3 separate regions of the Homo sapiens genome follow, and regions 2 and 3 are each linked to region 1. Evidence: fine-mapped expression QTL. A gene starts in region 1. Each other region holds a variant in brackets. All regions are shown on one strand. Distances are from middle to middle. Region 1 holds the start of CERNA1 (competing endogenous lncRNA 1 for miR-4707-5p and miR-4767). Region 2 overlaps MYO5C (myosin VC). Region 3 overlaps GNB5 (G protein subunit beta 5).

What was found.
Region 2: its variant is fine-mapped to the expression of CERNA1 in blood mononuclear cells (TOPMed, PIP 0.95).
Region 3: its variant is fine-mapped to the expression of CERNA1 in whole blood (INTERVAL, PIP 0.90).

What each region holds. Positions count from the first base shown.
Region 1 is chr15:52,175,289-52,185,648 of GRCh38, forward strand. CERNA1 (competing endogenous lncRNA 1 for miR-4707-5p and miR-4767) reads left to right here and starts at 4,738. Exons shown (of 3, transcript NR_102751.1): 1 at 4,738-5,113; 2 at 5,762-5,914. GNB5 (G protein subunit beta 5) reads right to left here. Exons shown (of 13, transcript NM_016194.4): 2 at 9,263-9,406; 3 at 4,480-4,591. The coding sequence starts at 9,388. RefSeq lists a silencer at 4,149-4,808 and enhancers at 4,854-5,355, 5,179-5,268, 9,117-9,286.
Region 2 is chr15:52,199,018-52,209,377 of GRCh38, forward strand. It overlaps MYO5C (myosin VC), which reads right to left. Exons shown (of 41, transcript NM_018728.4): 36 at 9,537-9,626; 37 at 6,799-6,949; 38 at 5,848-6,130. It overlaps CERNA1 (competing endogenous lncRNA 1 for miR-4707-5p and miR-4767), which reads left to right. Exons shown (of 3, transcript NR_102751.1): 3 at 5,872-6,862. Among named protein-coding and RNA genes, the nearest start is that of GNB5, 13 kb to the left of the region's middle. The variant C/T (reference allele first, on the strand shown) is at 5,240.
Region 3 is chr15:52,151,185-52,161,544 of GRCh38, forward strand. GNB5 (G protein subunit beta 5) reads right to left here. Exons shown (of 13, transcript NM_016194.4): 4 at 2,756-2,892. Among named protein-coding and RNA genes, the nearest start is that of CERNA1, 24 kb to the right of the region's middle. The variant T/C (reference allele first, on the strand shown) is at 4,458.

The DNA of each region.
Region 1 (10,360 bases):
AATTTGGTACTATAAAACTCATGTGTCTGGCCACACATTCCCAATTCACAGGAAACCATCCTTGGATTCCAAAATGGGAAATATCTGCAGAGGTCATCACGAAGCAGGGGCTGGGAATCTCAGCTGGGCAAGAAACAAGGCCTGTGTGTGTCAGAAACAAATCTGTCAGGCCAGGCACATTAGCTCACGCCTGTAATCCCAGCACTTTGGGAGGCTGAGGCGGGCAGATCACCTGAGGTCAGGAGTTCAAGAACAGCCCGTCCAACATGGTGAAACCCGGTCTCCACTAAAAATACAAAAATTAGCCAGGCATGGTGGCACATGCCTGTAGTCTCAGCTACTTGGGAGGCTGAGGCAGGAGAATCGCTTGAACCTGGGTGGTGGAACTTACAGTGAGCTGAGATTGTGCCACTGGACTCTAGCCTGGGCGACAGAGTGAGACTCCGTCTCAAAAAACAAACAAACAAACAAACAAAAAACGGCCAGGCGCAGTGGGTCACACCTGTAATCCCAGCACTTTGGGAGGCCAAGGTGGACGGATCACAAGGTCAGGAGTTCGAGACCAGCCTGGTTAACACAGTGAAACTCTGTCTCTACTAAAAATACAAAAATTAGCCAGGTGTGATGGCATGTGCCTGTAATCCCAGCTACTCAGGAGGCTGAGGCAGGAGAACTGCTTGAACCCAGGAGGTGGAGGTTGTAGCGAGCTGAGATCATGCCATTGCACTCCAGCCTGGGCAACAGAGCCAGACTCCATCTCAAAAAAAAACAAAACAAAACAAACAAACAAACAAAAACATCTGTTAACTAAGGGGCTGCCAGTCACCATAAGAGATACAGGAAAGTGCATGCTGCCAGCCCCTGCTCTGGGGAGTGAACAGATTCAGTTTATGGTCCTCCCCAGCCTCACCAGACCCTTCCCACCTTCCCCCAGGCTCTCAGCCACTTGCTCAATGGGGAGCCCTGCAAAGAAAGCTGCATCATTCCTAAACTGAATCCTGGCCCAATCACTAACCAGCTGCATGACCCTGAAGGAATTATTCGACTTTGCTAAGCCTGCTCGCTCATCGCACAGATGGGGATGATACCACTTTCCTTCATACAGGGAAAAATGACAGCACTGTTGTTTGCACCTGGCAGGGCTCTAGCTTATACTTCCACAAGTAAAACTCATCAGCATCCTTTCCTCCCTTTCCCACCTGAGTGCCAAGGGACAAACACACTTAGGAAGGAGCTGGGCGAGTCTGGGCTGGGGTAAGGTAAGAGCGGCTGCAGGGTCAACTATGGGACCAAGACAAGCTCAGAAATCATCTCTCGCTCTTCCACCTTCAGCTGTAACTTCCATTAGGAGCTGGCAAGTGGCACGCAAGGTAGGCTCTCTGATAAGAGGGAAAGAGACATTTGTCAAGAACTCTTACCCCAGGTCACTTACCTCTCACACTTCATTTCCCTCCCTCAAGCTGTCTTGTTCTGCCACAAAACATGGCAGGCAGAGTGAGCCCAGTAAAGCAATCAGATCCATCCTCTCTCTCAAAACCCTCCAAGGGTTTCCCAACTCACTGGGAGTAAGAGCCCAAATCTTCACTGCACCCATGGGGTCCTGCATGAGCTCCCAGCATAACCTGCAGCTGGACTCTGCCCTGCATACTCCCCTCCAGACACACCTGCCTCCTCACTCTTCCTCAGATACATCAGATACACCAAACACACCCCCTCCTGGGGCCTCTGCCTAGCTCCTCCTTTTTTTTTTTTTTTTTTTTTTTTGAGACGGAGTCTCGCTCTGTCGCCCAGGCTGGAGTGCAGTGGCAAGATCTCGGCTCACTGCAACCTCCAACTCCCTGGTTTAAGCTATTCTCCTGCCTCAGCCTCCCAAGTAGCTGAGATTACAGGCACCTGCCACCATGCCCAACTAATTTTTGTATTTTTAGTAGAGACGGGGTTTCACCATGTTGGCCAGGATGGTCTCAATCTCCTGACCTCATGATCCACCCGCCTTGGCCTCCCAAAGTGCTGGGATTACAGGCGTGAGCCACCCTGTCGGTCCGAGACCCTGTCTCTTAAAAATAAAGATGAATAAAGAAAAGAATGGCTGAGTGCGGTGGCTCACACCTGTAATCCCAGTACTTTTGGAGGCTCAGGCGGGCAGATCACTTGAGGTCAGGAGTTCGAGACCAGCCTGGCCAACATGGTGAAGCCTACTAAAAATACAAAAATTACTTGGGTGTGGTGGCACATGCCTATAGTCCCAGCTACTTGGGAGGCTGAGGCAGGAGAAACACTTGAACCTGGGAGGTGGAGGTTGCAGTAAGCCAAGACTGTGCCATTGTACTCCAGCCTGGGTGACAGAGGGAGACTCCGTGTCAAAAAAAAAAAAAAAAGAAAAGAAAAGTAGAGAAATGAGAGAACCTGGCTGGGAGATCAGGAGACATGTCAAAGGGGAAGAGGTCAATACAGTGATAAGAACCTTCAAGAAGCAAAGGCTTTATGCGGGGTAGAAGAGAAGTGGTCTGGAAGCTGCAGGGGAATCAAGAGGGACACAACCACATGACTTCTGGTCTTTCCAGCTCACAAATTCTGACATATGCAGGTAGGGATAGACCCTTCCACTGTGGGTCTAAAATCTGGCCCTAGCTTTTGAGGGCACCACACTCTTGGCAGGACAAAAAAAAGTTTCTTCTTTTGGATTGACTACATTTGCCCCCTGAGGTTCCCTTTGAAAAGCTGCATCTCTGCTCTCTGTCTTAAGGCAACTTACAAATTCACAGAAAACCTGAAAATATCCAGGCATGCAGCCTGCACTATTGAATAAGTGAGTTTCTGGAGAACGCCCTCTGCATGAAGCTCAAAACGGGTTTGGCGAAAATAATCTGAAGTGAGCCTGAGCTGGCACTCTGATTGCCTGGGGGGAATCCGGGTCCCAACACTTAGCAGGGGACCTTCGGTAAGTCCTTTAATTCTTTGTGCCTCAGTTTCCTCATCTGTCAAATGGAGAAATTAGATGACCTATGAATACTTTTCACCATGTTGGCCAGGCTGGTCTCAAACTGGGAGAAGGATTTCTGGGAAAACTTTTGCTTTGCTTTCTTGATAGGGAGCAAAGAGAGATTGGTGTCCATATTCCCCCTTCTTCCTGCCTTGGATACAGAAGTGATGTTTGGAGCTGTGGCAATCATATTATAATCATGGGGCAAATGCCACTGCTCTAAGGTGTGGAGAAGAAAGGCAGAAGGAGCCTGGGTCCCTTGGTGGGGGGTGCATGGTGCAGCTGAACAACAGCAGGTGATCATCCACCTTTGCTCTTGTTATGTAAGAAAAGTAACTCTCAATTTGCATAACTACATTATTTGGGGTTTACAGTTAGTGATTGCTGGACAGGATTTCTAAGCTTAGAGTGCCTCCTATTTAAAGAAGACCCCTAGGAAAGCACAGCACACGCTAGATCCAGGTCATCCACTTCTCTTAAGTGATCTTCAGAGATCAAAAGGTAAAGGCCCTAGCACGAACCCCATTTTTCCATTCCACATAGAATGTAAAGGGTGGCATCGATTAGGAATGGCAGGAGAACAACGTCAAGGTGTGCAGGAGGGCACCGTGGGAGGTGCTCAGCAAAGGGGAGATGCCACCCTCAGAGCTCAAAAGTGAGCAGATACAACCACTTCCCCAAGCCTGGCCCCCAGCCCAAGCTCTGCTGAGGAGGAGCCCTCTGACAAAGTAAAGGAACGCTGTTTTGGCCAAGAGCCGCTGAACCTGGCTATTTAATCGCTCACTCATAAAAATCACAGAGCCAGTTCTGAATTACGGTGGTGGTGGTGAAGAATGCAAGTTTAAGATCGCTATGGCTTTTTTATGCCAATCCACCACATCGATCCAAAAGCTTTTTAAACAGCCTTAAACGAACTGAACGGTTGAATTTAGTGAGCTCCTCCGTTTCCCTTCTCTCTCCGTCATCCAGCTCCCCGCCCCAAGGATAGGGGAGAGGTTGGAAAAATGAGCTTTGAAATTGCAGTCTCATAAAAGCAAAACTGAGAAAAGATACAACAGTGATGGAGAAAGCCAGACGGGCATTAAAAAACAAAACAGGAGTCTCTCCTAGGCCGCGCCTACACGGGCTCGCCGCGCTCGCTCGTCACCACCGACACCCCACCCCCTGCCCTCCGCATGGGAGGGGCAAGAACGCGATCCGTTCGCAGCTTCCAGGCAGGTGATGAGGATAGCTAGTCCCGCGGTCCTCCGCTAGCTGGCGGCGGGGGTCGGCCAGGTGCCCGGACCCTCCGAGGGCCCCACCGCCGCGCGTCCCGGGGATCGGGACCGCTACCCGCGCCTCACCTGCGCGCCCGGGCCCCAGGGCCCTGCTCCCGGGCGGTGGCGCGGGCCTGGCTCCCGTCGCAGCCACGACCGCCCCCACCGCCCCCGCCGTCCCCGCCCGGGAAGTGGCGAGCCGGTCCGGCTTGCCCCGCCCGCCTCCCGGCCCGCACTCACGCTCCACATCGTGCAGCTTGGCTCGCTCCTCCTCCAGCTTGCCCTTGAGGCTCTCGGCCTCGCTCTTCAGCGACGCCAGCGTCTCGTTCTCGTGCAGCCCCTCGGTTGCCATCTTCGCGCGGGGACGCAGCGGAGAGGGAAGCGGAGAGCGGGAATGCGCTGAGCCGCGGCGGGCGCCGCTCCAGCAGCCGTCCCCGGCCCCGAGCACCGCCCCGCGGCCCCGCCCTCCGCGATGACGCCAGCAGCTGCGGGCCCGGCTGCTGCGCCTGAGCCCCAAGACCCCGCACCTGGGCGCGCGCTCTGGCGCAGTGCCTGGTGCGATGTCCGCGTCAGCCTCTCTCCTCCGGGAGAGGCAGGGAGTGTGACGCCCATTTTACCAGCGGGCAAACTGTGGCTTAGGGATGCTGGGTGATTTGCCCGAGGACGCACACAGAGGGAAGGGCCAAGCCGGGATTCCAACTCGGGACTCCCCGCTTCTGGGGAGACCGGTGAGGCCCCCGCGACATGGCCCTCCCATCCCCAAGCCTCTCGTGCAGATCTCCGCTCTGTGGGACTTGATTGCGGGCTGCGGGCCCGTGGCTCCTGCAGGCAGAGAGAGGACGGGAGAGGAGACGGCTACGAGGCTTGGCCGCAGGTAGCTACGGTGCTCCCCCAACAAGGAACCGGAAACCCTCTTCGTTTGTTGATCTAAATATACAAAAATAAAACTAGTTGCTGGGTTCTCAGACGGAGTCTCTGCGGCATTAGGAGGCCCACCCTTATTTTCTCTTTTCTTCACGCAGGAATCAGGTCCCTGGCCTGGGGGCGGCAAAAGGAGATGGCGGTGGGTCAAGTGGGCGCGCAGGCTCAGACCTGGGGCTTCTGAGCCCACGCCCAGGCATCTCGGACCTCTCACTTCTGAGGCCACCTCCTGCCCTTTAGAATGAAGGGCTGGCACAGTTCTGCCAGGATGCACGTTTAGCGACTTCTGTCAGACTGAAGCATCCCCTCTCCGCAAGCGCCTGAAGTGTGAGAGGCACTGTTCTAAGTGCTTTAATTTGCACTTGTTTAATCCTCACAGGAGTCAACTTGAATGGGCACACTTATTCCCACTTTACAGAAGAGGAAACTGGGGCACAGAAAGACTGAGTAATTGCTCAGGGGGCATGCTCCAAGAAAGAGGGAGAGACAGGATTTGGACCCAGACAGGCTGGCTCCCTAGTGCTCTGGACTTTGGTGTGGATGATCCAACTCAAGCCTTCTCCTTTTTCCCTCCTATGTGATCTTGCATGCGTTTGTGCAGAGAATGAGAAGGCAGATCAAAGTTACAGATGCTGCGAGAACATCGCCAAGCAGAATCTTGGGTGCTGTCCCCACCTCTCTGTACCTGCTCCCTCCCAGAGAAGCCAGCCTCCACTTGCTGTCCCGGGCCTTCTCTATCTGAGAAAAGTTGAAGGTACTCGATGTTAATCTGTACATAGTTGTTTTGCAGGTTAGAGTCTGGGATCCTCCGTTTCCTTATCTGGAAAAGCTTCTTCATAGGATCTGCTTCATAGGATTGTTATGAGAATTAAGTAAGATGGTGTGGGCCGGGTGCGGTGGTTCACACCTGTAATCCCAACACTTCGGGAGGCCAAGGTGGGTGTATCACCTGAGGTCAGGAGTTCGAAACCAGCCTGGCCAACATGATGAAACCCTCTCTCTACTAAAAATACAAAAATTAGTCGGGCGTGGTGGTACGTGCCTGTAACCTCAGCTACTCAGGAGGCTGAGGCACGAGAATCGCTTGAACCCTGGAATCAGAGGTTGCAGTGAGCCGAGATCGTGCCACTGCACTCCAGCCTGGGCAACAGAGCAAGACTCAAAAAAAACAAAAACAAAAACAAAAACAAAACAAAAAAAGGTAAGATAGTGTGGGTGAAGACTTTAGCAGACTTCTCCGTACATAGCAGATGCTTATTCACTGCTAGTTCTCTTTTCCGTTCCCATCCGTATAATAATAGGTTTACTTGTCGCTGTTCCTTAGTATTTAGATATTTAGCATAGTACTTGCATATGGTAGGTGCTCAGTTAATGCTAGTTTATTAAATGGATGTATAAAAAATATATAAAATATATAAATCTGTATAAACTATGTTAAAAATATAAACATATAACAAACATGTTTATAAATGAATAAATATATAAATACAATTATTAAGTATAAGATAAGAATATATAAAAGCAAAAATATTACACCTGTTTGAGAGTTTGTAAAGCAAAAGGTTAAGAGCACAGGCTCTATCTAGATCTGACTGCCTGGGGGCAAATCCTGGCTCTGCTCTGTGGCCTGAGGGATTTACTTGTGGTGCCTCAGGCTCCTCATCTGTGAATGGGGGACAACACCTCCTTCAGACTCTGTATGGCATTCGGAGAGAGCAGTGCGTGGCACACAGTATGCATCTGTTATTATTACTGAGGCTGCCTGATACGCTTGAGCAGTTCACATGAGGTAATTTAAATGAGACACTGGGTCATGGGGGATTCTTCTCACAAGGGCCATCTCAGGGGGCCCAGGCAAGGCAGCCTCATCTCATCACCTCCTTAGGCTGGCTCTGTTTGGACCGTTGCAGGATGTGTGTGTGGTTCAAGGTCCTCCTGGCTGTGAAGACCTGAGGCACGTGGTACTTCTCACTGGTGTGTGCCCTCTTCTGGGGGTTCTTTGTGTAAAATAAACCTCGAACAGCCTCCAACCTGGAGAGTCAACTATCTAGAGATGAGGCCATCAGACTTTTAATGGTTAGGCAGTTTTCCAAGTACTTTCTTGTATTTTGGTGTTAACTCCCACTGAGGAAGCTGGATATCAGAAAAGTTGAGGTCAGCTACATTCCACAGTGGTTGAGATAAAGGGTCACTCCTATTCACAAAAAGGGCCCAATGGGGACTGTGTCTACATAATCCCAAACAGTTGGATGAAAGGCCAGCTGTCAGTCACTGGATGTCTCTTCAGCTGAATGATGCTGTCTGAATATTTGGGAACCCCCAAGTAGAGAGTAGAGATTGTATTAAAGTAATTGTGGTTTTTGCCATTGCTTTCAATTGAAAGCAATGAGAATTGTTATGAGAATTAAGTAAGATTGTGTGGGCCGGGCGCAGTGGTTCACACCTGTAATCCCAACACTTTGGGAGGCCAAGGTGAGTGTATCACCTGAGGTCAGGAGTTCAAAACCAGCCTGGCCAACATGGTGAAACCCTCTCTCTACTAAAAATACAAAAATTAGCCAGGCATAGTGGTTTGTGCCTGTAACCTCAGCTACTCAGGAGGCTGAGGCACGAGAATCACTTGAACCCTGGAGTCAGAGGTTGCAGTGAGCCGAGATCGTGCCACTGCTTCAATTGAAAGCAATGGCAAAAACCGCAATTACTTTTGCCCCAACCTAATAGTAGCGCTAGCTGGCAACTATTCCCTAGAAAAGTATCTCCAGGCATGGCCCCTGTGCTAGGGAGAACCTGTGTGCCACAGAGGACTCAAAATCTGGGATTCTTGGGCTTATTCCACCTGCAGAGGAAGTTGTTTAAAAAGCAGAAGAGTTAGATTAATAAATAATGGGGGGGGGGTAAGGCCCCCAGAAAGCAGGTTTATTTTTAAGAACTAAATGTCCTCAGTTCTACAATTTGCAGGGCCAAGTTAGAACGTAGACTGTAGAAATATACTACAGGTAGAAGCCCACTACACCTAGGCTGAAGACATATCCAAATTGCTATGCTGTATCAAAGCCTTTTTATGCCACCCTGGGCTGTTTACTTGCTATTTGCTTTAAGGGAATAATTTTTAATGTAATCATGGTCAGGGGTTACAGTGGAATCAGGAGGATAAAAAGTGCCTTTTCTTTTTCAGTTAGATAAAATGTAAAAGTCATCTTTCCTCTCTTTGGTTGTATTATGGATTTTGTTGTTGTTTTTTTAAATGTGTGGGGATTTCCTACTGGGCTTTTCAGGAGGAGTGCTTTACCACTTTTCACCAAGTGGGGGCTCTGCTCAGCTGCACTATTGAGCGCAGCTTTGCAAATTCTCAGAGATAGGACTAATTCTTAGGGCTTCAGTGATGCTGTGGGCATTTTTGCTGCAAGATCTGAAGCCTGTGCACAGCCACCTCTGGTGAGGACTTGATTTTGTGTACTTTGAAAAATTCCAGGATTTGTATTCCATTCCTAGTCTTTGTTGAAGGCTTAGGCCCAAGGAGTACTTCTGAGCTGAATTTTGCTCACTACTGAGGCCCTGTGAGATTCCATCTTCATTAGAGCTGGACCTACACACCACTGGGACCGGTCCTTGGAAAGATGCTCCTAGACTGTTTATTTGCCAGCTTCTCTTTTAGCTTGATTGCCTGCCAAGCAGACTTGTAGAAGTCAGAAGAAAAAAGTATTAGCCCTAAGAAATAATAGAAGCTAAAACATTCATTGAGTACTTTCCTTGCTGGGTACTATTTAAAATAAGTTATCAAATGAAATCATTTGATCATCATAAAACTCTTATGATGTAGGTGCTATTAGCATTCCTATTTGCAGATGGGAAAAACAGGCTTCAGGAGAGAGGTGAGAACCTCCTTGCACACCAATAACTAGGAACATCAATAGGATTTGGACCCAGGCAGTCAGACACCAGAGTCCACACCCTGAACCTCTGTACTATACTGCCTCACCAAGCCCAGGCATACTGAAAAGTGTGTGTTATATAAGCTGATTCTATGGCATCTCATCTGTCACAGGACCCTCGCTTGACTGTTTTAAGACAGATAACTGAATTTTTTTTAAGTGGCACTTACAATTTCTGCACATGTTGAACAGTAGCTGAGTTGTTGAGACTTCTTGAAAACTGGTCTCAGAGCTCGTTGTTTGAAACATTTGTCACATGAGCCAAATACATTAACGAGAAAGGTCTGATCACACATCTTTTACCCAAGATAAAGCTGAAAAAAAGTGAAAAGAAGGGAGGGGGTGTGAGAAAAGCCAATGGTTTTAACTTTCTAAAATCTCTTCTTGCTTGTACCGTGGTAGCTATTCAGACGTCTACATGTGGGATAGAGTATATGCAGTTAATTTATAACCTTTCAACTATTACAACATGCTGGGTCAATACAACTCATTTAATCAGTGAGAAAGCATCAGACAATAGGTTTTCTGAACTTAACACGTTTAACCAGTTTTTTGGCAGCTGGCAGACCTGCGTCAGGCAGGATTGATCCTTGCAGCACAATATCAATTCTGTGGGGTTTCACAATGGAAAACGTTTTTGTAATGGATGCTATAACTTAAAACTTTTAAAAACATTCCTCCCCTCAGGGTGAACTTTTAAAGATAAGGGTCAGCAAATGATGGAGCCTGACCCCAACCAAAGCCAGGGGCCTGAGTAAGTGTGGTGTGGGTTCCGTGCAAGGCAAGCACTCACTTATTAAACATTTGACAGCCAAAGACCCAGGGTCCCTGCCTGTTCACAAGGAAGTCAACAGACAGGCCCAGGCCGCTGCAGGGAGGCAGCACAAGCATCTAGTGGTTACAGGGACAGGCTCTGGCTGCCTGGTCCCGGCCCACCACTGAGGCTAGTTAGCTGACCTCTCTGAAGCTTGGTTTTGCTAATCTGTCAAGTGGAGATCTTAAAATCTACCCTTCTGGGGTTGTCAAGAGAATGATAAGAGTCAGTGCGTAAAGCACTTAGCTCAAGGTCGGTAATACAGGGAGTGTGCCAGCGAGGTCATGCTGCCCTGAGTGGCAGCAATAGCGGGAACAGTGGCTGCCTTGGGAAGGAGGGACATGGGTAGGGGCAGGGTGAGGCTGGGGATGCCAAAGAAAGCATAAGAGGAGCCTATGGCAACGGTTCAGACAAGACGCGAGGAAGTCATGGACTAAAGGTGAGAAAGTAACTT
Region 2 (10,360 bases), 24 kb after region 1:
CGAGTAGCTGGGACTACAGCTACTGCCACCAAACCTGGCTAATTTTTTTGTATTTTTAGTAGAGACAGGGTTTCACTGTGTTAGCCAGGATGGTCTCGATCTCCTGACCTCGTGATCCGCCCACCTCGGCCTCCCAAAGTGCTGGGATTTACAGGCGTGAGCCACCACGCCCGGCCCTACTTTTAGTTTTTATTACAGGTTTCTAATGGGGCTCCCATCTCAGCCCTTCTAATTCACCCTATTCAAATACTGCCACAGTCCTTTCTAAAATCTGAATTTTGAGCACATTAATTCTCCCACTCAAAGATGTGTGGTGGGTTTCCAGTTCCCAGTGAGATGGAGTAACCACACTCCATCTTGTCTGTCCCACTGAATGCAGCTATAAAGCCTGAATGGAATGCATTCGGCAGCTATTTGAGGACTTGGAAAAGTAAATAGTAGCAGGTGTATTGGGGAAGATGACCAGAATTTGAAGTCCTTCCAAGTCAAAAGTGAGATCATCACTTTTCCCCTCTGCTATTCACTGGCCTCTACTCGCCACAGGTTGAAACTCAGAGGTGGGCATCAATGCCAACAAAGAGCTCCAGGGGAGCTCTCTGATTCTAGCTCAAGGAGCTGAAAAGGGGCCTCCTAATGCTCAATGCCCTACCTTTTCCCTCTCCTTTTTCTCTATTCTCTCATGCTCAAGTTCCAATCCCATGTCGACAGCAGTGGTGGCGAAGGAGGCCAGAAGGAACCTAAAACTCGAAGAGAAGGGAAACTTCCCTTCCAATTGGAGGATCTGTGGTTCAAGGTTCTCTCTTTGCCCTCACCATTTGGCCCCAGATAGAGACATCTGCAGTAAGTACACTGCAGAGCAAATTAAGGAAAGCTCCAGTTTTCTAGCTGAAGCACCAAAAAGGGGGCAGAAAGTAATAGGAATGCCACAGAAAGGGAGGAGCCTGGGAAAGTTGGGAAAAGCAGTTTGTTAAGTTCTTTATTAACTCCTGGGTTTATCCCTGAGCCCACGCATGAATCTGACCCTAAACAGCATATACAGAATTTAAGAACTGAACTATGAAACATACCATTACCCAAGTTCCAAGCTGGCCACCATTTTTCACACATATGAAACGGACCCAAAGAGCACCACAAAACCCTTACACATGGAAATGGCATGAGAACCACAAAGCATAGAGGGTGGTCAGAACTTGCAGTCTGACCCAAGTGCATTGTCCGCCTGATGAAAATATTGACATTCTCCATATGATTTAAAGACTTAGAGTCTTGGCCAGGGATGGTGGCTCACACCTGTAATCCCAGCACTTTGGGAGGCTGAGGCGAGTGGATCACTTGAGATCAGGAGTTCGAGACCAGCTTGGCCAACATGGTGAAACCCCGTCTCTACTAAAAATGTAAAAATTAGCCAGATATGGTAGTGGGTGCTTGTAATCCCAGCTACTTGGGAGGCTGAGGCACGAGAATCGCTTGAACCCAGGCAGAGGTTGCAGTGAGCCAAGATTGTGCTGCTGCACTCAAGCTTGGGTAACTAAATAATAATAATAATAATAATAAAAACATAAACTAAAAAATGAAGACCTAGAGTCTCATAATACAGTATTTAAAAATATCCAATATACAATTCAAAATTGGCATATGAAGAACCAGAAAGATCTCAACTCACATTAAACAAAACAACTAATAGAAGTCAACACTGAGATGACACAGATATTCAAATTATCTGACCAAGACTTTAAAGAAGTTATCATAAAAATGCTCTAAAAAGTAAAGCCAAACTCTCTTGTAATGAATCAAAAGATATAAAGTCTCAGAAAAGAAACAGAAAATATAAAGAAAAACCAAATGGAAATTTTAGAATTGAAAAATACAATAATAGAAATAAAAGAACTCACTGAATGGGCTTACTAGCAGAATAGAGATGACAGAGGAGAGTCAGTGAACTTGAAAGGATTAACAGAGATTATCCAATCTGAACAGCACAGAAGAAAAGAACTAAGAAAAAGGAGCAGAATTTTATGGACCTGTGGGACAATAACAAAAAGTCTTTAACAGCTGGTTCACTGAAGTTCTGGAAAGAGAAGACAAAGAGTATGATGCAGACAAAATATCTGAAAAAACAGTGGCTGAAAATGTACCAAATTTGGTGAATGGCCAGATTCAAGAAGCTCAGGAAATTCCAAACAGGCTAAACCAAAGAAATCCACACCCAGACACATCACAAACTATGGAAAACTAAAGACAAAGAAAAAAAAATCTTAAAAGTAATCAGCGAAAAATTATGCATTATTTATGGGGAATAATTCAAATGACTATGGATTTCTTATCTGAAACCACAGTAGCTAGAAAAAAGTAAAACATTTTTAAAGTGGTGAAAGAAAACAACTGTCAATCCAGAATTCTACATCCTACAAACATACCCTTTAGGAATAAAGGTAAAGTGAAGACATTTTCAACTGAAAGAAAACTAATAATTTATTGCCAACAAAACTGCTCTAAAAGGAATACTAAAATACTTTCTTCAGGCAGAAGGAAAATTATATCAAAATGAGACTTGGAAAAAAATGAGACTTGGAACATTAGGAATGAAGAAACAACAGAAATGGTAAATACCTGGTTGAGTATAATAGACTATTCTTCTCTTATTGAGTTCTTTAAAATATGTTTGATGGTTGAAAACTAAAATTATAATATTGTATGGTACAGTTTTTGATGTATGTAGATCTAATATATAAGACCACTGCAACATAAAGTAGGGAGGCTAAAGGGGCCTACATGATGGTAAGATTTCTGCATTCCACTTGATGTGGTAAGATATTGATTCTAAATAGACTGTGAAAAGTTAAGTATATGTACTGGAATCCCTAGAGCAACAACTGAGAAAAAAGATCAAAGGGATAATACTAAAAAAAAAAAAAAAAATAGATAATTTAGAAAGGGATACTAAAAAATTTCAAATAACCCAAAAGAAGCAGATAAAGAAAATGGAGAAATGAAAACCAGAAGCAACAAGCAGAAATTAATAAAATGGTAATCCTAAATATAAATATTATATTACATTAAAATGATCTAAACGTCCCCATTTGGAAGCATAGATTCCAGCCTGAGCAACATAGTGAGACTCCGTTTCTACAAAAATGGCATATGCCTGTAGGAGTTCAAGACCAGCCTGGCCAACATGGTGAAACCCCGTCTCTATTAAAAATACAAAAATTAGCCGGGCATGGTGGCGCATGCCTGTAGCCACAGCTACTCAGGAGGCTGCGGCAGAAGAATTGTTTGAACCCGGGAGGCGAAGGTTGCAGTGAGCCAAGATCGTGCCACTGTACTCCAGCCTGGGTGACAGAGTGAGACCCCCATCTCAAAAAAGAAAAAGAAAAGGATGGCCACTTCCACCTGGTGGAAGGGAAAAAGTACTGGGTACCTGGGGGGCAGGTGTTCGCCTGTCCTCAAAGAAGTTGTTCTAAGACCTGGAGTCATGTGTCTCCCTCATGATCCTTTTCATTCATGTCTCTACTCAGTCTTGGGGGATCCACTGAGGGAGTGAGAACTGAGTTTAGCAAAGGCTCTGATGTGGCTTTACTTTAGGGCTGAAATCTACTACAGAGGACTACAGGATCTGCTTGGAGCTTGTGAAATAAACATAACTCATTTCTCAATGAAGACATAAAGATCTGCAAAGACTAGTCCTTCTGAATACCCCTTTCTATCTGAAAACCATGCCCTGCTGTCATGAGAATTTGTGGGAATGGTCTATGGGGATTGACTCCAACTCCAAAGTTTCACTAATGCTAAAAAGGTGTAAGGGATGCCTCTCACATGTATTTTTTGACTTAAGATACTCAATTTTTAAAAAATTTTTCTGGGTACATAGTAGGTATATATATTTATGGGGTACATGAAATTTTTTTTTGTTTTTTTTTTGAGACGGAGTTTTGCTTTGTCCCCCAGGCTGGAGTGCTGAGGCGCGATCTTGGCTCACTGCAACGTCTGCCTCCCCAGTTCTAGTGATTCTCTTGTCTCAGCCTCATGAGTAGCTGAGATTACAGGTGTGCACCACCAGGCCTGGCTAATTTTTTTGTATTTTTAGTACAGACAGAGGTTTCACCATGTTGCTCAGGCTGGTCTCAAACTCCTGACCCCAAATGATCCGCCCACCTCGACCTCCCAAAGTCCTGGGATTACAGGTGTGAGCCACTGTGCCTGGCCCATGAAATGTTTTGATACAGGCATGCAATGTGAAATAAGCACATCAAGGAGAATAGGGTATCCATTTCCTCAAGCATTTATTGAGTTACAAACAATCCATTACACTCCAAGTTATTTTATCTTTTTTATTATTTATTTTTTTGAGGCAGAGTCTTGCTCTGTCGCCCAGGTTGGAGTGCAATGGTGTGATCTTGGCTCACTGCAACCTCTGCCTCGGGTTCAAGCGATTCTCCTGCCTCGGCCTCCCGAGTAGCTGGGATTACAGGCATGTGCCACAACGCCCAGCTAATTTTTGTATTTTTAGTAAAGACAGGGTTTTGCCATGTTGGCCAGGCTGGTCTCAAACTCCTGACCTCAGGTGATCCACCCACCTCGGCCTCCCAAAATGCTGGGATTACAGGCATGAGCCACCCCGCCCGGCCTCTAAGTTATTTAAAAATACACAATTAAGTTATTATTGACTATAGTCACCCTGTTGTGCTATCAAATAGTAGGTCTTATTCATTCTTTCTCTCTTTTTTTTGTACCCATTAACCATTTCCACCTCTACTCAGCCCCCCACTACTCTTCCCAGCCTCTGGTAACCATCCTTCTACTCTCCATCTTTATGAATTCAATTGTTTTAATTTCTAGCTCCCACAAATAAGTGAGAACATCTGATGTTTGTCTTTCTATGCCTGGCTTATTTCACTTAGCATAATGATAGATACTTTCTTTGTCACCTTCCCTTACGTCATTACCATCATCACTACCCCAGGTTCTCATAACAGATACAGGTATCAAATTTCTGCACACACTATAAGAAACGTAAATATCCTATATTATGTGTTTTCCAATCACTTGATCAGTGTTAATTCAAATAGTGGCTCAGGGTCCATGGTGTCTCAATTAAGAGATAGTAGACACACCTCAAAACTAGATTCCCAAGTCTTCAGGATGAACTCCAAATGCCTTAGCCTGGTATTCCAGACCCTCCCAGTGTGGATCCAACCTAGCTCTTTACCTTGGTCCTGCTGCTCCCCACACCAGCCTC[C/T]GCTTACTCCACATGCAGCCTGAGCAGAGGTCCTCACTCACTCCCCGCAATGCCTCTGACCGTTTCTCCTGCTTGGAACGTTCTTCTCCGTTTCCTTTATCACTCAAGGCACAACTCTCTGGCTTCCCCAACTGTTCCGTCTGCAATGTCTCTCCTCTCTGATACATTTCCTGCACCACTTGTTTGTGATTTAATCATAGTTGCCTTTCATTATTATTTAGCTATTCTGAGCTTCTCAAAGGCAGGGATCATATCGACTTTTCCTTGTTTCCTGTGTTCTCCCCCTGGCAGTGCTATTCAGAGAAGGTAGTCACTACTGGTTGAGTGCATGACCACCCTAGAGGGCCAGAATTTAAGATGAACATCTACTGGTTCTGGGTTAAAGCGGCTAGGCCAGTCCATCTAGTTGGCAGGGTGTGGCGTGAGGGGAGTAGGCCCTGGGCGCCAGCATCCCGGGGCTCCTAGGGTGACTCGAATATCCCTACAGCAGTAGGGCCTAAACAGGGGTTTGACGCCACAGCAGGGAGGGTCAGGCGCGTGGGGCCTCGGACTTCAAGAGCATCCTTTCTGCAGGCCTCTCCGCGTGAGCGGAGGTTTCTGGGTTTTACCTGATCTGCATCCCTTTTCTGCAGGAGCACATGTCCTTGCGCAGGAAGAGGCTGTTCAGCGTGACCGCCCCGATCAAGAAGAAGAGCTGCTTCACCGCCTGCCTCACAAGCTCGGGGTCCAGGCCGTTCTGGCACATGGTGGTGTAAAAGTAGCTCAGCTGTTGCAGGACGGAGGTCATGGTGTAGCCGTCCGTGTCGTCTATGCTAGAGGAGCGCTTCCGGAAGCCTGTGGGCTTCAGGCCGGAAATGCCCTGCAGGCTCTCATACTCCAGCATTCCCGGAACTGCGGAGAGACAGGGAGGCTGTGCTGACACGCCAGGAGACACACGCGGAACGTTCCCGACGCTCTTCGGTTTGTTTCAGGAGATGGGACATTTTTCTACAAGAGTCAGTGGATGTACTTATGATAGAGAAAGCAAAAGAATCAAGGGTTTGGGACACCAGGGTGTGTGTCAGGGTTAGGGATGGACGGCTGTTTCCAGCGGGGCTGCAGCTCCTCTTGTAGGTTTGAAGCAGCACGTTTTTCAGCTTCACAGGAAAGAAAGCTGCTTAGCATGACAAATCATGGCCTGGGCATTAAAGCCTAAAGTATTTAAATTTCAGGAAATTAAGGAAAGTATACAAGAATTCGAATGGGGCTTTAGGATTTCAAAAATACTTGGCTACGCCAAGAAGTAGAAGTACCACATAAATAGCAGTAGTAGAAGTTTCCCCAAGTTTTTTCCTTCAGGATAAATCATCCTTATATAAAGAAAACTACCAACAGCGTACTATTATTTATGGAATCATTATAAGCAAGCAAAGAATTAAAAGGCAGATATCTACATGATTATATTTCCTTGGCTTTTTAAACAATGTTACACATAATCACACATTACACATACCAAGTTTATGTTTTAAAAAGTCTTAATGTTACTATAAATATTTTTTGGTCATCCATTCTCTTCTTACCTATTATCGGTTGGATATTCTTTTCCATTATGATAATAAATTGATGATATATTCGTATAGCCACATCACTGAGAATCTGTCTGTATTCTGAAAGGTCAAAATTGTTCAAGCAATTCTTATTCTGCTGTGGACTATTATGCTTCATGAATTCCTAAAAGTAATTTTAAACATAAAATATTAGAATAATACAAACATGTAGGAAATTAATAATCAGCTACTATAACTCTTTTACCTTAAAACTTAATGTCTGATTTATATCAAATGAGTTCATGATGCTTGGGGTAGCATGTACCTTCTATAAGAAAAAAATTGCACTGATTTCCTGTATGATCACAGTCTATCACACTGTCATTGTCCCACCCACTTCCCTACAAACATTGTCCCTGGAACCTATAGACTAAATGGAAAAGCTCGTAGAAGGCCCATGGAAGCGCATAGGAAAATGAAACAAAACTGCAGAGCATTCAAGGAAACAAACTGCTATGAAGAGGTAAGTGGATACAATAAATGAGATTCATAACCTTATAATTTACAGGGTACAAAGTTGAAATATTTTAAAGTGTGTGTTATGGATTTTATGTGTCTTCCTAAAAATCATACATTGAAGCCCTAACCCCCTAGTGTGGCTGTATTTGGAGATGGGGCCTTTAGGGAGGTAATGAGGTTAAATGAGGTCATGAGGATAGGGCCGTGATCTAATAATAAGATTGATGTCCTTATAAGAAGAGACACCAGAGAGAGCTTGCCCTCTCTCTCCCTCTTCCTGACCCATGCACCCAGGAAAGGTCCTGTGAGGACACAGGGATGGAGAAAGTGGCTGTCAGCAAGCCAGGAAGAGAGCCCTCACCAGGAAGTGACCATGCTGGCACCCTGATCTCAGATGTTTAGCCTCCAGAACTGTGAGGAAACAAATCTCTTGTTTAAGCCACCCAGCCTGCGGTATTTTGTTATAGTAGCCTGAGTGAACTAATGGAATATGTTTAACATGTTCAAAGAGACTAAAGAAAAAGAAAAAATTAAGAATAGAACATTATAGGGCTGGGCGTGGTGGCTTACGCCTGTAATCCAGCACTTTGCGAGGCCGAGGCAGGCGGATCACTTGAAGTCAGGAGTTCAAGACCAGCCTGGCCAACATGGTGAAACCCCATCTCTATTAAAAATACAAAAATTAACCGGGCATGGTGGCGCATGCCTGTAGCCACAGCTACTCAGGAGGCTGAGGCAGGAGAATTGCTTGAACCTGGGAAGCAAAGGTTGCAGTGAGCCAAGATCGTGCCACTGTACTCCAGCCTGGGTGACAGAGTGAGACCCCCATCTCAAAAAAGAAAAAGAAAAAAAAAAAAGAACAGGACATTGTGGTAAGAGACAGAGGTGAAAAGGAACAAGAGAAATTTTAGAAATAAAAATATGGTAACTGAAAAAGCAGTCAGACAGGGAAAAGAATATTCTATACATGGCTGAAGGGGGCAAAGAAAGGATCATAAAACAGTGCTGAATAAAACATTCTTCCACTGATGTCTCACAGATGCCAGTTTGTTGTAAACGGACTAGTCTGTGCCTCCTCCTGTTTTGGTATTCCTTTTAGTCAGAGGTTGGATTTTCTTTACTTCTCCTTTTGTTCTATAGTACTAGACAGATTGCTGTTATATTTTATTTTAACTTCCTTCCATTGGGACAACTGGTTATCTATATGGAAGAGGATATTAGATCATTACCTTACATACCAATTTTGGATAGGTAAAAACATAATTAATTGTGAACTCTAAATATGAACTACAAAAGTTTAGAAGAGGATCTTCATGATCTCAGGGCAGGGAAGAATTTCTTAAGACACAAATCATAAAAGAATAGGATTGACAGATTTAAGCATATCAAAATTCAAAAACTGTGTGACAAGGGACTTCATAAGGAAAATTAGAAGCTAAGCTACAGTCTATCCATATGATATAAAGACCTCCTACAAATCAGTAACAAAAAAACCAACCCTAAGAAAAAGAAAGGAAGGATGTGACTAGGCAATTCAAAAGGAAACCCAAATGACCAATAAACATATAAAATTATGCTTGACTTCACTAGTGACCAAATAAATGCAATTTAAGTCAACAAGATATAATTTTATACCCTGACACTGGTAAAGGATAAAAATGTCTGTCAATACCAAGTGTTGGTGAAGGTATGAGACACTGGAAACATCATACACTGCTGGTGGGGCTGTGCAATGGTACAGCCATTTTGGAGAGCACTGAAAACCCTGAAAGCCACTTTGTTATTTTAGTTCAATGAAATTTTTCTCTGTGAGTACTTGAAGGTGGAGAACTCTTTCATGACATCAGCCTCCTGGAAGCAGAGTCGGAATGGCAAAGGAAACATATTTATAGATTATGGAGGAACAGTCAGGGTCCTGTAGAGAGAACAGCTGTGAAGAAACAGGCATTTTAAACCAAAGCCTGTATTTTAGAGTCATAATGCTAAACGTCTTACAGCCAGAAGGAAACTTAAAAGTCATCTTATCTACCTATTGATTTAAAAGTAATGGAGACCTAGGAGGCCTAGTACCATGCCCAAAATCTAAGCTGCTTCCAGAAGTCTCCTGCCTGTGGTGTATGCCCAAGAGTCCAACAGATAATGTGCTGTTGGCCTCCTGGTGGAGAGGATAGAGGCTCTATTGAGCTCTGGCTCAGGAGGAGGTTATAGACTGGCTGTCAGCACAAAACAACAAGCAGGTGGGCGCCCCCTACCTCTTCTCCGCTGTACTGCTTCAGGCAATTGAGAAAATGACAAGTGTTGGAAAGCCAAAAGGACAGCATTTCAAAGTCTTCTAAATGTTCCTTAGGAAAATAAGAAAAGACAAAATTGGTCTTGATGATTACTTGTACCTCTGAGCATTTACCTGTTTGGTTATTTGTAGCTTTTGACCAAAATTAGTTTTTCTTTTATTCACTAAAGCCTTTATCCAATTCATATTATACTTATAAGAACTTATATTTATTTAATAGGTCACAGTTTGTAACATGTTTCTGTACAGGTTGTGTCACTCATTATGAAGTGTGAAGTGGGTCCTGAAGGAATGCATGAGAAATGCAAGTTTCACTTCTTGCTCTCCTAAGTTCACACTCTCACTGGGAAGATAGAACAGAGTTTTAGTAGGTGGTCAAGAGCCCATACGATGGCTGTAGACTGTGCTACCAAAGCTCAGAGGACGAGGAGAGAGGATGGGGAGGCAGAGCAGCCAGGGAAACCTCAGAGAGGAAGGAGGTCTAGCCTTTGAGGGAAATGGGTGGAGAGACAAGAGCTCAGGACTAGGACTGTTGGGGAGAAGGCCTCCACTTACAGGGCAGGAAGAAGAGGAACAAGCAGTGAAGGCAGAGCTACAGTGATCAGAGGGGAAAACAGAGAAAATCCTGGGATTTAAAAGACAAGGGAGGAAGCTTTCAAGGAGATGGTGCTAATGCTTTGGTCAATTTAGAGAGAATAAAAAGTAAAGAAACACCACTGGTTTTAGTAAGAGGAGTTACTGGTGATCTCTCTGTAGAGTGATGGGTTAGAAGCCAGATTGCAAGGA
Region 3 (10,360 bases), 24 kb before region 1:
TTTAGCGCAGAAACTGGAGTGGGGCCACACACCTGTATCGTGGGGTCCTCCACACCTGGAGCCCCTGATGGCTGGGGACTGGTTCCTAGCATTGCCCACATCAGCGACCACGTTAGGGGCTTCTTCCACCTCACTGCCTGCCTGTCCCCCATGTGTGCTCTGGAGTCCCTGTGTGTGCCACCCACTGTGTGCTCTGGCGTCTCATTAAACTAAGTGTGGTCTCCTCGGTGAGCACAGATTTATGTGCAGGGGCCTACGTACCCAGAGAGAATGTGCCTCTATCCCCAAGCCTTAATCCCACATGGCTGGGGTGACTACTCTCCTGCATCTAAGCAGGAAGGCTGTTGATGAGTCCAAGTCTGTTCCAGAGGCTTCCTGCTTTCCAGCCTCCTCCCCACACCCACATCCACCTCTTCCTGCTCTGGAGCAGAGAGGGATGGACAGTGTGTGCCCAGCCCTGCTGAAGGTCCTCCCTCCCAACAGCAGTATGTGAGTGACAGAAAACCCAACACAAAGCCTACCTTGTCTGGATTTAAGAAGTCAAAAGGCTAGAGAGCGACATGGATATCCTGATAAGCACCTTATAAGAATAAGCTCTTGAAAAAGACTAGAAAGAAGTGCTCTAAAATAATAATAATGGGCAGGGCAAGGTGGCTCACATCTATAATCTCAGTGCTTTCAGAGGCTGAGGCAGGAGGATCACTCGAGCCCAGGAAGTCAAGGCTGAAGTGAGCTGCACTCCAGCCTGGGTAACAGAGTGAGACCCCATCTCAAGAAAAGAAAAAAGAAAAAGAAAAAAATAATAATGGTTGTGACAGGATGGTGGGAGTAAAAGGTTTTTATTTGTTTGTTTCTTTAATGTGGTAGAATACATAAGTGATAAATTTATTTTGATCTTAAAAAAAAAGCAAGTGCAATGTGACATACTAGATTTGTAGGTAATCTAGGAGAGTAATAACATTTGTCCTATCAAACGCAAAACTGACACAGACGTTACAGTTTGTGGATTATCTAGAGTATATCCAGTTTCACAAGGGTTATAAAAAAAAGCAAACCAACCTGCTTTTGGAAAAACTGAGCACAAGGCAGGGGTTGGGAGAAACCTATGCTGATCATAAAAATAGGATTTATATAATATCTTTTTTTTTTTGGAGAAAAAAAAACAGTCTCGCCCTGTTGCCTAGGCTGGAGTGCAGTGGCATGGTCTCAGCTCACTGCAACCTCCGCCTCCTAGGTTCAAGCGATTCTCCTGCCTCAGCCTTCCGAGTAGCTGGGATTACAGGCTCCCACCACCATGCCCAGCTAATTTTTGTATTTTTTAGTAGACACGAGGTTTCACCATGTTGGCCAGGTTAGTCTTGAACTCCTGACCTCAGGTGATCCATCCGCCTCGGCCTCCCAAAGTGCTGGGATTACAGGCGTGAGCCACCATGCCTGGCTGAATATCTCTCTTTTTTTTTTTTTGAGACAGGGTCTCACTGTGTTGCCCAGGCTGGAGTGCAATGGCATAATCTCAGCTCACTGCAGCCTTGACCTCCTACACCCAAACGATACTCCCACCTCAGCGTCCCAAGTAGCTGGCACTACAGGCACGCACCACCATGCCCAGCTGATTCTGTATTTCTATTTTTATAAAGACGAGGTCTCACCATTTGGTCTCGAACTCCTGGATTCAAGTGATCCTCCTGCCTTGGCCTCCCAAAGTGCTAGGATTATAGGCATGAGCCACTATAACCAGCCTGTAGAATATGTCATGTGACTTCAGTTTATAGCTTTATGTTCAATACATGTTACATAAAAATAGACATCAAAAGTACTAAGCTGTGGGAGCCAGACTCCAAGTGAGTCCCAAATCATTCCAGCCTCTTGATAGTCACACTTTTCTATAGTCTCTTTCCTCTGTGTATCAGGGTTGTTCTGTGTGACCAACAGAATACAACAGGAGCAATGGACTGTCACCTCTGAGGCCAGGTCATGAAATATGGCATGGCCCTGCCTCTGCCCCTTCTTGTGGATCACTCGCTCTGGGAGAGGCCAGCTACCATGTTGTGAGCAGGTCCAATGGTGAGGAACTGAGGCCTCCAGCCAAGAGCCACGTGAACAGGGCACCCTGGAAGTGAGTCTCCACCTTAGTCCAGCTGTCGGCAACCACAGCCCCGACCAACATCTTCACACAACCTCACAAACCACCTGAGCCCGAACCACCCAATGGAGCCACTCCCAGATGCCTGACTCTCAGAAACCATGCGAGATAATTAAGCTGCTAAATTTGGGGGTAATTTTTTGGAGGAATAGATAACTAATAAATAATATATAAAATAAACTGTAAATGATATGATTTTTAAAATTGTATTTTACAAGATCTGTATCTTAACATTGTTCTTTATGACATAAGAATTGCTAAGCTCCTTAAATTGAAAGAAAGTCATTGACAGAATCTTACGCCCTCAATTTGGAAAAAAAAGAAACTATTTAAAAACTGGTTTCATTTACAAATAAGACTTTGAAATTATTTTCAATGGTTCATCATATTGGTTACATATAGTCTACTGTTTCAACTATTACCAACTTTAAATCTACCCAAATTATGAAGTTCTATAATATGTAAGAGAGTTCTTTATGCTAAATCACATCCTTTGGAGAATGAGCAAAGTCACAAAGATCAGAAAAGGGCTTTTGGAAAGGGACAGCTCTCCTCCCCCTTAGCTATAAAATCCAAAACCCGCTCACCTGTTATGCAGCAGGTGTGACATACCTGTGACGAGCTCACGATCCTCCTCTTATCTTTGCACCAGTCCATGCACAGGACTTTGTTCCCGTGGCCTTTGAGGGTCCTTCTGGTCTTCATGACAAACTGCCCCAGGGCCTCCACCCGCTCCGCCACCTGGTGCACTGGAATGACAAGGCCATAGTCAGTCCCCTTGCTAAGGACCAGGTTCTGGGCTTTGGGCTGACACAGCACAGACATATGTTCCGCAGAGGGAGGCGGCCCCATGGGCTTCCTCCATAACAAGCCACAGCTTGATTCTCTGATTCCTTACCATTGCATCCTAGCAGCACTCCTTCTTTTAAGATCAGTAGAGGGTAGAGACAATACTGCCATTCTCTCTTTGTGTTTAAGACCCTACATTTTTCAAAGCAGTTTTATCTATGCATGTTGAGGGATTAACAACAAGACCACCTCATATTCATAAAGCACTACATAAAATTATTCCCTTTAAGGGCCACAGCTCTAAGAGGAGGGCAGGATGGGCAGGAGAGTGAGACCGCTATGCCCATTTAGCAGATGGGGAAACTGAGACTCAGAGAGGTTATCTGGTTAAGACAAGTTCATACAATCAACAGTGAACCAGGCTGGGGCTTCTAGTTCTCCTGCCTACCACTCTCTCATCACAACGAAAACTGACTTTACAAAACTGTTCCAACAGGACTATAAGGTACACCCTGCAGCTCTAGAGCTTGCCGTGTCTAGCTGACCCTGTGTGCCTAGCACTGGCCTGGACATGGCAGGTTCCTCATACACATGGCGCAGGAAAGAATGAACCAGCAAACTGCCAAGCAAGCTGTCTGCAAACTGCACACCTGTGAGTTTACTGAAAAACCTAGTGTCCACAGAAATCAATGCAATGTCCTAAAAGTCTGAATATATGATCCACTCACAGCACCACCTACACCAGAAAGGAGATCCAAAAGTCAATCTCTCAGGGCTGGGACCACAGCTTCTTTCCTGAGGCCAAGGGCAGGCTTTCTAGGGGCTTGCAGAGAAGCTGAGACTGATGAGTCTGAGAGGGACAAGTTTGTAGGAAGTGGCTGGAAAGCCACAAAGACCAGCTGGTCCAGGCCCTTCATCATGCAGGGGAGGACGCCAAGGTCTGCAGGGATCCCATGGCCACTCTCCACTTCCCTCTCTTGTTGGTAGCTATGTGAGAAGGAGAAGCCAGGGCTCTGAACTGTCCATCTACATCTCCTTCCTTGAAACCTCCCAGCTGGCCTTTCTCCAGGTAGGTGAGGAGGGAAGAGGGCATTTTCAGGGGGAAACAGCCTACGCAAACAGACAGAGGAACAGGGTGGGAAGAGGCAAGGCAGCTGCCCCTCATGTCTTCCCAGGGAGCTGCTGAGGCTTGACGGGGCCGTGGCCCATTTCCCTTCAAATGGAAGCCTGTGCCGAGAGGTGCCAACTCTGTGGTCTGAGTCCTATGACAGCAGCGTCCCTTCCTGGGAAATCCTTCCTCCCATCCTTCCCTCCCCAAAATGCTTCAGTGTGTATGTCCTAAAAACAATGAACTCTCTTAAATAACCAAAGTGTAATCATCAAAATTAGAAAATTAATGCTGAAACAACACTAATCTACAGACTTATTGAGATACTGCCTATTGTCCAAATAATAACCTTCATAGCAAAAGAAAATCCACGATCATAGATTGCATTCAGTTGCATGTTTAGCCTCCAGTTATATT[T/C]AGCCTCCAGTTATATTTAGCCTCCAGTTATGTGGCTGCTTCTTGTAATGTGGTTTAATGCTTCCTTGAGATTAGCTTGGGTAAAACACATTTGGCAGGGACACAGAGATGGGGTGCTGAGTTAATGTCACTGCATCCCACCTGGGCACATGAGTCCCACTGCTGGTGGGGTCACCGGGGATCATCTGGTTAAGGGGACACCTGCCAGGTCTCTCCACTGGAGAGTTACCATTTTATCTTTTGTAATGAAAAGTGTCTTGTTAGGGAGGTACTCTGAGGCTATGTAAACATGTTACCCCTCAAACCTCAACGGCCTTATTTTAATTCCACTAATGATTCTGGCCTGAATGAGTGATTGTGATGATGGCTGGCAAGTGGTGATCTTTCTCACTCCATCCTTCCCTCTGCATTCATTAGTCAGCTTTCTAAGGAGGAGTTCTGCCTCCTCTCCCAGTTATTTATTTATTCATTCATTTACATTAGTAGAGACTCATGGGTTCTTACTTTATTCAAGAGGTTGTAATCCATTACTAATACTATTGACTTTGATCTTCAAATTGTCCCAGGTGATGGGGAGCCCCGTCAAGCAGGTTCCCATGACCTTCTGACATGTCCCCCTCATAGTCTGAGCACTTCTCATTCCAAGCTTCCGTTGTTCCTTCCCTGTCCTTGCTCTAAAATCAGCTGTTTCTCCATGGAACTAAAAGTTCCTTTTAGTTGCCTCATTTCCTTGTGATAAAAGAGCAAAGTTGCACATGGGCTAAAAGTCTTTGTGAAAACTCAAACTGTAAAAATACTTGCTAAACTAGGCCAGGCACAGTGGCTCACGCCTGTAATCCCAGCACTTTGGGAGGCCAAGGTAGGTGGACTGCTTGAGCTCAGGAGTCTGAGATCAGCCTGGGCAACATGGTGAAACCGTCTCTACCAAAAATACAAAAACTTGGCTGGATGTGGTGGCACATATCTGTGGTCCCAGTTACTTGGGAGGCCGAGGTGGGAGAACTGCTTGAGCCCGGGGGCAAAGGTCGCAGTGGGCAGAGGTCGCAGTGAGCTGAGATTGCGCCACTGCACTCCAGCCTGGGTGACAGAGCTAGATCTTGTCTAAAAATACAAACAAACAAAACAAAAACCTTGCTAAACTCTAAAGTGCTACATGAATGTTCAATTATTATGCCATTGCTTCTGCTAAAACATTGCATTATTTACTGCCACAAACAGCATATTCGTCTTTTACAAATACGTTCTTTACAAAATACATCGAATGAAGTTTAAAAATAGATTGAATTTTCCAAATTCTTTTTTTTTTTTTTTTGAGACGGAGTCTCGCTCGGTCGCCCAGGCTGGAGTGCAGTGGCGGGATCTCGGCTCACTGCAAGCTCTGCCTCCCGGGTTCACGCCATTCTCCTGCCTCAGCCTCCCAAGTAGCTAGGACTACAGGCGCCCGCCACCACTCCTGGCTAATTTTTTGTATTTTTAGTAGAGATGGGGTTTCACCAAGTTAGACCAGGATGGTCTCAATCTTCTGACCTTGTGATCCGCCAGCCTCGGCCTCCCAAAGTGCTGGGATTACAGGCGTGAGCCACGGCACCCGGCCTGATTCTTATAGGCCTTTTTTTTTTTTTTGAGTCGGAGTCTCACTCTGTCACCCAGGCTGGAGTGCAGTGGTGCCATCTTGGCTCACTGCAACCTCTACCTCCCGGGTTCAAGTGATTCTCCTGCCTCAGCCTCCAGAGTAGTTGGGATTACAGGCATGTACAACCATGCCCAGCTAATTTTTGTATTTTTAGTAAAGACAGGTTTCACCATGTTGGCCAGGATGGTCTCGATCATCTGACCTCGTGATCAACCCACCTCCACCTCCCAAAGTGCTGGGATTACAGGAGTGAGCCACCGCGCCCAGCCATATAGGCCTTTTATATAAGGCTCTATCGGCCCAGAGTTGTGAGCATATTGTATTTAGTATTTTACTTAGAAATTTTACATCAATATTATTGCTGCTTCCCCCAATTCAGCATTAGGATAGCCATAGCTTTTTGATAATTTCCCTTTTAATAAAAAAGATGATTCACCCAACCAAAATAGGGCCCTCCTTACATAATGTGAATTTGAATAGATCCCAACTATTAATTATTTTTTCTCACTACATTTTTTCTTCCCACATGTAGATCACTGCCAACCCACTCCATCCTGTTTCTATCTGCCAAATTTTGCATCCACTGAATTAAAACAAATTTTAAAAATTAAACATTAGGAAGTTAAAAAAAAAAAGACCTGGAAATGAGCTGAATATGTGCTGGGTATTATTTGTGTGAACTTGGTTCAGGACACATGTAGTTTCCCCTTTGCCTTCTGGAGGACCATTCCTCCAGGATTTAATTTTTTTTTTTAATGGTGAATATAACCAGCTGGTTTCTATAATAAGAATTTGCTAGAATATAATGGTAACCTGTTAAGAAATTCCACTAGCTCTAGGAAGACAGGAGTGCTGTCTTGTTTGATCTTCTTCAGAGGCAAAACTGGAGCAAAGCAGTTAAAAATCCAGGCTCTGGATTTGGGGGCTTGGGTCAAAGCCTGGCTCTGTCGCACACCAGCTGCACAACCTCGAGCAAATCATGTACTTTCTCGCCACCTCTCTTCCCCTGTGGGGTTGCGGGGACAACTATTCAAGCCTGGCATAAAGGGAACACTTCATAAGGGTTGGCTATGACATTCTCCAGCATGGCGTACAGTGAGTACCCAGTAATATTTACTGAAGGAATAAATGAAATGCTTAGTATTGATTAAACTTCAATCAACGGTAGCAATCCTAAGCAGCAGTCTTTGGTGGGCGAACAAAACAATGCCTCTTTGCCTTCTTTTTCTGTACCTCTCCCTATCCCTAATCCATCATCCCTACTTCAGCTGTCAAGCAACTCACCAATTTAACAGGGCACGCTCACTAGCACTGGGAGTGGGAGGCACACACAGGGTTTCAGACCTACTTTCTGATCCAAGGAGCTCACCAACCTTTTTTTTTTTTTAAAGTTCCTTTTTTTTCTTTTCCCCCTCCTGGCCCTATCCTGTTCCCTGAGCAACTTGGATTTGGTCTTTACCACGCACAAACCCTTACGCCATTCAGATACAGCTCAAACTCTTTCCTAGTTCATTCCAGTTCAGTCTGTGCCAGCCTCTGGGACCATCCAGGTATATGAGAGTCAGTCCCTGACCTCACTGTAGTTCAGAGTCAAGGGAAGAGATGGAGCCATAATGATGATTTCCATACAACGTGGGACTTGCTAAGCTAGATGTGTGGACACAAGAAGCTTCTGTCCCAGAGGGTGGGGCACTGCACTGGGTCTTTTGGGGTGGTATCTGAGCTCAGTCGAAAGGATAAAAAGGTGAGTCAGATGAGAGGAGGTCCTAGGTGGGTACGCTAAGCTGAGGAAATGGCAAAAGCAAAGGCCCAACAATAATACTGATGTAAAATTTTTACATCAATATTTTTTAGGGGTGGAATAAACAACCTGATTGCAGAGTAAGGGGTAGGTGCAGGCAAGTAATGGCGCTGTACACCCATGACAGAGCTCATTTATCCCACCGTGACAGCAGCCTGCTGTCATCAGAAGAGTGGCATGGTCGGATCTGCCTTCTCATGACTATCTGTGGCTGCAGCGTTGGAGGACAGCGTCGATGGAGACAACACTGGAGGAGGGAAACCAGGGAAGAGACTCCTCTTCTTTGGCAGCCCCCTCTCCAGCGGACACACCATCTGCCGCACCACGCTTCTTTGTGGTCCCTCCAAGGTCAGACTGGAACAGCCTAGAAACTGCTCCCTGTCCCTGGATGTTCTCCTTCCCATGTCCAGGGAGAGGACGCTTGCCTCTGTGGCCTCCCTGCTCAGTTGGGTCCTCTGAAGCTTGAGATGCTGAATATTCTGGATGCCAGTCCAGACCAAGGAATCAGAATCAAAGTCATGGCTGGAACTCAAGAGGAAGTGTAGGCCAGTGAATGTTTGCTGCTTGAATGATGGTTCCAGAATCTCTACTATGTGCCAAGAGCTGTGCCAGATGCTTGGGTACAGAAAAGAGTAAGACAGTCTCTGCTCTTACTGAGCTCACAGTCTGGAGGGGGCAGACAGGTCAGCACCCAGGTAACAACTACAGTGCAGTGCGATGGTGGCTGACAGAGGCTGTCACCCAGGGTCAGGGAGCCAGAGGGGAACAGGGTTGACTCCGCTGGCAGGCGTGGTCATTAGAGGTGATGTCACTGAAGCCTGGTTTGAAGGATGCATAGGAGTTGGGGTGGAAAAGGGTAGGTGGGAAATTAGCTTCTTTTTTTTTTTTTTGAGATGGAGTCTCACTCTGTTGCCTAGGCTGGAGTGCAATGGTGTGATCTTGGCTCACTGTAACCTCTGCCTCCTGGGTTCAAGCGATTCTCCTGTCTCAGCCTCCTGAGTAGCTGGAATTCCAGGCCCATGCCACCACACCTGGCTAATTTTTGTATTTTTAGTAGAGATGGGGTTGCACCATGTTGGCCAGGCCGGTCTCGAACTCCTGACCTCAGGAGATCCACCCGCCTCTGCCTCCCAAAGTGTTGGGATTACAGGCATGAGCCACTGCGCCTGGCCAGGAAATTAGCTTCTTAATGTCTACTTTAGTCGCTGTTTTTTAGGAAAATGGCAGACAATGACCCAATCCATGGGAGTGTTGTGAGGTTCAACTGAGAAGGCAAATTAAAGTGCCTAACAGGCAGCTGGCAGGCCAGGAGTGGCAAATCTAGAGTTGGTGTACTAGGAGCTGCGAACTAGAAGACTGGAAACAACATGACCCGGAGAGCAACGGGGCTTTTGAAATGGAGGAGCCATGAAAACTAGAGATCATGTTTAGAATAGCAGAGAAGGGGTGAATGAAAAGAGGGGTTGTGAATGGAGAGATGGTTTTGTCTTGATTGCCTTTTATAGAATTATAGAAGTAAATGCATATTCATTAAAAATAATCATAAAATAAAAATATATGGTCACTTACAATTCTGCTTAGCCTGACCATTCTTATCATTTGGTGTGTACCCTTCCAGCCTTTCCTCCACATATGTGCACACACATATATATGTGTATAAGCAGACAACATGCCACATAAAATTTGGGGGACTACAGGCATGGGATTACAGGTGTGAGCTGCCACACCCAGCCTATCATTTTTAATGACTCCATAACATTCCACTGTATATACATACTATAATCTCTGAATCTCCTACTGGTGGACACTTACTTTGTCCCAGGGCTACCATGATACCCTTGTACTGTATTATCTCCTTAGATAAATTTCAATTCGTGGAATTACTGAGTCAAAGGGAAAGCATATTTTTTAAGGCTTTTGATGTATGTTACCAATATCCACCATTGATTGTGTGTCTCCTGGGTGACGGGCACTGGGCTGAGTGCTTTACACAACAGCCTGAGGACAAAGGCTTTATCTCCATTTCTACAGATGAGGAGCCTGGAGCTCAGAGAGGCTAAGGACCTCATGCACACATACTTGGATCCCTAAGAACATTTACATACCTTCAATAATGGGAGAATCTGTGGGCGGGTAGCTATCATTATTTAGAAAATCAAGGAGTAGGTGAGGCACTGACAATGGCTTCTTAGTCCAGGAGACATCCTAACTTTGGATCCTCCATGCCTCTTTCTTTTTTTGAGACAGAGTCTCGCTCTGTTGCCCAGGCTGGAGTGCAGTGGCGTGATCTTGGCTCACTGCAACCTCCACCTTCCAGGTTCAAGCAATTCTCATGCCTCAGCCTCTCAAGCAGCTGGGATTACAGGCACGCGCTACCACGCCCGGCTAATTTTCGTATTTTTTTTAGTAGAGATGGGGTTCCACCATGTTGCCCAGGTTGGTCTCGAAGTCCTGGCCTCAAGTGGTCCA